Linked DNA regions of Homo sapiens. The protein of the gene in region 1 purifies or fractionates together with the protein of each later gene. This does not show direct contact. Each region holds a gene or a part of one and is shown on either strand. Other genes may lie near its edges.

Evidence for each region.
Region 2: the proteins of SATB2 (region 1) and PHF10 purify together in Homo sapiens (affinity purification with western blotting, with the first as the bait; one study listed by BioGRID). This does not show direct contact.

What each region holds. Positions count from the first base shown.
Region 1 is NC_000002.12:199,321,940-199,325,439, forward strand, and holds part of SATB2 (DNA-binding protein SATB2), read right to left. Parts: intron 2,020-3,500; coding exon 1,864-2,019; intron 1-1,863. UniProt on the Homo sapiens protein: Binds to DNA, at nuclear matrix- or scaffold-associated regions. Thought to recognize the sugar-phosphate structure of double-stranded DNA.
Region 2 is NC_000006.12:169,714,501-169,718,000, forward strand, and holds part of PHF10 (PHD finger protein 10), read right to left. Parts: intron 3,407-3,500; coding exon 3,323-3,406; intron 1,589-3,322; coding exon 1,455-1,588; intron 1,358-1,454; coding exon 1,208-1,357; intron 343-1,207; coding exon 233-342; intron 1-232. UniProt on the Homo sapiens protein: Involved in transcription activity regulation by chromatin remodeling. Belongs to the neural progenitors-specific chromatin remodeling complex (npBAF complex) and is required for the proliferation of neural progenitors.

The sequences.
Region 1 (3,500 bases):
ATTCCCAGAACTATGTTCTTCTCCAAATTCTACGAAATCAGGGCTACTGATTTCTTCAGGAGACATCAAAAATTTGGAGAGCTAAGCTTCTGCCAGTTGGCAAAAGCAGCTTTCAATCAGCTACCTGAATTATTTTAGGAGGCTGGAGGCATCACTATTTCCAAAAGCCATACTGCTAAATCAACAGGAAGATTACAGGCTTTTGGAATCAAGTTCTCAGACTGTGGTCTTCAGTTTTTCTTGAAAGCTGCTTATAAAAGAAGGACTGTGTGAAACTTTGATATTTACATCAAGTCACAACTAAGGGGCAGGTTTGCAAAATCAATTGTGCAGCTTTTATACTCACTGCACATTTACCACATATGTCCTTTATTACACAGTGGAAAACCATTAAATGCACAGTAGTTTTGCCAAGTGGCATTATGCATTTAACAGCTTTATTCGTTTAACAGCTCCAACTCTCATTATATTTTGCCATGTGGTACATGGGATTTTATGCATTTAACAGTTTAAGAAGGCTCTATGGTATTTTCTTTTCATGTATTTCATACTATGGTTGGACATTATGTCTTAGCAAACTGTATTTCACTGATTTCATTGAAGAGAGAAAGTCAGAGTAATCTGGAAAACTTACTACACTGAAATTGAAAAGGGAAACAAACATTTCAATCCCTTTCCAAGTTCCTTGATATTCTACTCCCCTCCTTTTATCAACATCTAAAAATAACCTATATCAGGTTAAAACTGCAGGTAAAGAAGGCTAACCCTGTACTCTATAATTAATCTAAATATAACATTTAACTACAGTTTGAAGTTTTTCAGTTTTAAAAATTTAATTTTTATTGAAAACCTTCTTGCTTAATAGAAATACAATACTCAGTCACTTCCTTTCTTTATAGCACACAACAGAAGATTTGTTAGGGAGATGATCAACCATTTGATTATTTACATATGTAGGGATGAAAACATTTGTCATATAAGGACACAGAGGAAATCAAGCTCAGAATCAAAGGACTCTCAAAATTATGCTTTAACTAACTTTTATTTCCTCCACTCTGCATTAGGTGTTCGCCCTAGGTATACATAAGTGAGCATGCACCTCAAACCTAGGATTCTAGGTTTGGGCAGAAGTTGTCCCTTTAAATGAAGAATTGAAGCAGATAGTAGATCCCATCAACTGTTGCTGCTTTCAGAAATAAAAAACCTAAGCATCTGTCTGCTCTTTTCCCCAGAGCATTACATTCTCCACAATCCCAGAACTCTGAAAAATTTTACTGGATAAGCTTCTGTGTTTTTCTGTTAAAAGATTTTAGCACTTACTCTGCACTCCCCCCACGTGTGTTTTCTCCTGAAAAAATCAACTGTATTCTGTACATAAAAGAAACACCTGACATCAAAAGGTGTCTCTGGGGCTGGGGAAAAGTGGTTATTATAACAGAGTTGGACATTCCCCTTGTGGGAACAGGAAAGGTGATGAGACTTGGCTAAAACTTGGTCTCAGAAAGGTGCTGTTATATACATTCTAAGTTTTGTTCATACACACACACACACACACACACACACACACACATATATAAAGGGAGAGAAACAAAAGGGTACATTGCAGTGTTTAGAATAAGGAGAGAAATCATTCGAGGCTAATTTTTTTTAATCTTTAAAAGAAAAAAGGTCAAGTTTTGGCTTCATCTCTATTTTGAACTCCAATGGGAATAAAAGCAAACTAGAGTAAAAGGCAGAACATGACAGGTTTCTTGGGGGTTATTACTGTTATTATTATTATAGGAACAGATGTATTTTTATTGGTGGAGGAAGGAGAAGGATCTAATTCCAGCCCTCGATTTTGCTTTTTTAAAAACCACTCACCTGACTTTTATTTGCAGCCACTTTGGCAAACAGGGCTTGAGACACCTTGGCCCTTTTCATCTCCTGTTGGATCTCGTCATAAATGGCAGCTGTGATGTTGATGTTGGCGCCGTCCACCTTAATAGGGAGGTCTGTTGTCGGTGTCGAGGTTTTGGCCTACCAAGAGACCATGAAAATAATAATTTAAAAAGTGCTGCATTCAGCCCAGCCATCTGTGCAGAAATTATCAAAGGATTTCAGTCAGCTGATGCCAAACTGCATTAGCTACAGAGGGACACTTCCTGTCCATTATTCTAATCAGGTTAATTGTGATTGGAAATAATTGCAGTGCATTCCTATAGGACATGCAGAATCCTGTCAACCCTGTTCTCTCACAGCATCCCAGACGAAGGTTCACAGGTAGGATGGCTCTCCTAGACACCAAACTATAAGCAACCATCTAACTACAAAACAAACATGCAGAACACACACACAGTTAACCTTTTCTTTCTAAAAATGGCACACCTTGGAATAAGAGCCAATTCTTCCAGAAAAAAAATAAGTAAATGGGTAGAGGTCTCTAAATAATAAATTATTACTCAATTTAATGCACTCCCAAGTCTCTCTTATTCTTTATTAAAGCTTTACATATGTCATTCGAGTATGTATGGTTTCCCATCATTATCATCATTATGCTACCCAGACAGTCACCTAATTTCACCTAGGAAATCAGTGGAAATGAAACAAAATTTCATTTCATAAAACTAGGCTTCACAATGCCTTTGATGTGCCGTTTTCATTTTCTTAAACTCATATTGCGGTTTTATGTATTCTGCAGTGCTCGTTTTAATTGAATGATTTCCCATCAGCTTCAGAGACAAATGAAGGACAATATAGAAGTCTGTACTTCTTGGGGTTAGGATAACCCTAAAATGTCTGAATCTACTTAATCCAAAAGACGGTCATAACATTTACTTGGTGTGAGCCCTAGAATGCATTGCTGGTGTCTAATAAGAGAGGGCTGAGACATTTTCTTAGAACCTCTGGCAGCAAGATTTCAGGAAAAGACATCCTTGATCCTTGTGCACTACCAGCCGAATTGGCCTAACCTGGGTTTTTTCTCTTTGTCCCCATTCACCCTAGAATCTCAAACCAACAGAGTTATCTCCAAATCACAAGTTTCCCTGTGCGGATGCCCTGAGCTGTTCTCTACTGGATCCAGCAGTATGCAGGTCCAGAGAAAGATGTAACAGGCAGTGTGGACTCTGTGACAAATGGTGTCTAGCGGCAGAACTTAAGGCCCTACGTTTCCATAAAGGCTTTGCTTCCTAACAGTGCTCAGTAACTTCTGCCATTTTTCTTCTACCTCCTTCTCTCATACTATTTTCTAATTACCGCAAAGCAATAATTACTATAATTTATGGCGTGCTTTTTATGGGCCAGGTACTCCAGAAAGCATTTTAACATTTGTTTTCACATTTAATTCTTTTAAGATTCCAATGAGTTAGATATTATTATTTTCATCTTACAGATGAAGAAACTGAAATAAAAGAGGATCTTAACCTAGGACACCCAGCAGCCAGTGAAGGAACCATGATCTGAACGCAAGTCTTTCAGGCTCAAAAACATGGGCTCAGGACACTGCACTACACACTGCC
Region 2 (3,500 bases), on another chromosome or scaffold:
AACCCAAACAGAATGGGCAGAGACAGAGGCATCTAGACTTCACCAGCATATATTCAAATTCTGACTACAGGGTATTGTTTACCACAGAACCAGAGAAGAATAGCAACACAAATCCTATACGATATCTTACGGTGATATCTATAGACCCCAAAATTGTTAGGAGGCAAGTACAAAAGGCTCTGAAACCCCTTACCAATAGCCGATACCAACTGTAACTAAAACTACTAAATACCTCTTATAATATTCCTGGAACTGTCCGGGGATGAGAGCCACTGGGTAAGAACTGACCTTTGTTCGCTCTGTTGGCAAAACTTTGTACTTCCCTTGAGGTACCTGGATAACCTACGTTAACATAAAGAGAAACACAAAACTGATTCCATGCTAAGAATCAAGGCTTTAGGAAGAGTCCCCACGTGCTCACCACTGCACGCCCACTTCCCCCTCGAAAAGCTAAAATTTTAGGAGATATCAGGAGCTATAACCTAAGAGGACAGTTGGTGCTTTCAGTTCTATATATTATTGTTTTAAAGGCCTATTCTCCTGAGGAATGGCAGTGGATCTCTTGCTCACTACTTAACAGCAGAGTGATCTGGGTAGCTTATACGACCTCTCTGTAGCTCAATTTCTTTATGAAATGGAAGTAATCCTAGTTCCAACCTCACATGGTTACTATGAGAATTAACATGCAAATCTCTTAAAAACTCTTGGGACGCACAGCAAGTATGATATGTAGCTATTATTAGTCTCATTTAGAATTATTAACCGTAAAGCAAAAGACATCTCACAAAAAAATGTAAATTGAGTATTATTAAGCACACCATTAAAAATAACATCTCAACTTCTGAGGAAAAAAAGAACACGCAGGTGTCAGCATGGCCAACATGGTAAAACACCATCTCTACTAAAAATACAAAAAATTAGCTGGGTGTGGTGGCAGGCGCCTGTAATCCCAGCTAATGGGGAGGCTGAGGCAGAAGCATCGCCTGAACCCGGGAGGCGGAGGTTGCAGTGAGCCGAGATCATGCCACTGCACTCCATCCTGGGCTACACAGACTCTGCCACAAAAAACAAAACAAAACAAACAAACAAACAAAAAAAACACACACACATAGGTGGTACAAAAAATAACGATAAAGGGGGTGATGGGCACTCTGCAATAACAAGTAATAAACTAAGTTCAGGGGGTACTAAATTTAAGTTATCCTACATGTGTCTGCAAGTCAAAATAAGCTCTTCTTTCTTCCATGCGTTCCCGGTTTAAGTTGCTATTAAATTCTGCTGCTTTTTTGGCAGCTTTCTTAATATACTCAGGCACTTTACTGGCTTCAACTTTCTGAGTATTCTGTTGTTGCATTTGCTGGAAAAAAAAAATACAGTTGGAAGTCACATATAACTTTCTAAAATGTCATTTTCCCCAACCCAAATAAAAAATGCCAGTCACCTCAATTACTTACGGAATACTCTTTATAATGGTCTGTAATTCGTTGACGTTCTTTTTCTTGTAGAATAACAGAATACTCAGCATGTTTGGCTGGATATTCTTTTATCATTAAATCAATCACTTCATCACTGCGCAATGCTGTTAAGCCTATTTTAGACCAAAAAATAAAAAAATAAAGAAGCTCTTTTAAGGATAAGTGAACAAAAGCACTCTTCAAAATTTAATTCTTCAAACCGCTCCACGTTGTAATGGTTTTCCAATAGCCAAAGCAAAATATCTTAGTACATTTGAAAATAATTAAACTTAATATTCACAATATAAACTCGAGCAATCAAAAGATTATCTTGCAAAAGGCAAATATATCAATTTTTCAACCAAACAAGTTTATTTTTAAGATTCTATGTGCTTTGAACATATATCCCTTTAGTTGGAAACAACTGTTAAATAATGAAATGCACTAACTACTAACAAGTACTACAGAATACTAGATGAATAAAAAAAAATTCAACATATTATAGTTCCCAGTCTTCAAATTCCATACACAAGAAATATTACAATCAATTAAAATTTCACCAAAAACATCAGCACACACACACACACCATGGAGACAATTTTCAAAACTCACAGTATCAGATTTCACCAATTGCTAAAATGCATTCCCAAGAATTTATATAAAAAGTAGCCATGTTGCATTAAAATGTTTGTGAAAAAAAGATTACAAATAAAGCACGGACATAATTATACAGAACTAAAAATTGAAGAAAATTTGCCTTTTTGCATTTTAGAGATGTGGTCTCGCCATCTTGCCCAGGCTGGAGTGCAGTGGCTATTCACAGACATGATCACAGCACACTACAACCCCAAAGTCCTGTGTTCCAGTGATCCTCCTCCCTCAGCCTCCCAAGTAGCTGGGACCACACGCACACACCATGCACTTAGCAAAGAACCTGCAACTTAAAAAAATATATTGTACAAGCTTTGTACAAAAAATACAAACACTCTGAAAACTCTGTAAAAATTATTAGACAAGGGCTGGGCATGGTGGCTCATGCCTGTAATCCCAGCACTTTGGGAGACCAAGGTGGGTGGATCACAAGGTCAGAAGTTGGAGACCAGCCTGGCCAACATGGTAAAACCCCGTCTCTAATAAAAATACAAAAATTAGATGGCTGTGATGACATGCGCCTGTAGTACCAGCTACTCGGTAGGCTGAGGGAGAATTCCTTGAACCCGGGAGATGGAGGTTGCAGTGAGCTAAGATCGCGCCACTGCATGCCAGCCTGGACAACAGAGAGAGACTCTGTGTTAAAAAAAAGAGAAAAATTAGACAATTATACTCTGTTATAGAATAGAGGTTGATCCTTGACTTGCAATGGGGTTACATATGATAAACCCATCCTAAGTTGAAACTATCCTAAAAAGTAAAAGCATTTAATACATCTAGCCTACCAAACATCTTTGCTTACCCTAGCCTAACTTAAACATGCTCAGAAAACTTACATTAGCCTACAGCTGGGCAAAATCAGCTAACACAAATTTTAATATAAAGTGTTGAATATGTCATGTGACTTGTTACATATTATACTGCAAGTGAAAAGAATAATGGTTGTATAGACACTTGAAGTATGGTTTCTACTGAATATGCATTGCTTTCACACCATCATGAAGCTGAACCATCATAAGTCAGGAACCACATGTGTGTTCAAGCTTCATTCTCCTGTGTATTTTAACAATAATCAAAAATGAAGTAAATAATGTAGCATTTAAATAGTTCAATTTATTTTATTAATTTTGTAAAATATTTTAGGAAATAAGATACTTATCTAGTATTATCTCATAAATGTTCAGCTTGAAAAATTCACATTAAAAAGCTATTCTTACCTAGAGTGCACTGAGTTTCAGTAATGACATTTAGCTCTCTCAGGTAGAGTTTCTCCTTGTGAGACAAATCTCGTCGCTCTAAATCTCCAAAAAAAAGATCAAAAGACTATTAAAAACAGCAAAACCTTATGCACTTGTAAAACTTTTAAAAGCTTAAAAACCTTGACTTTTTAAAGTA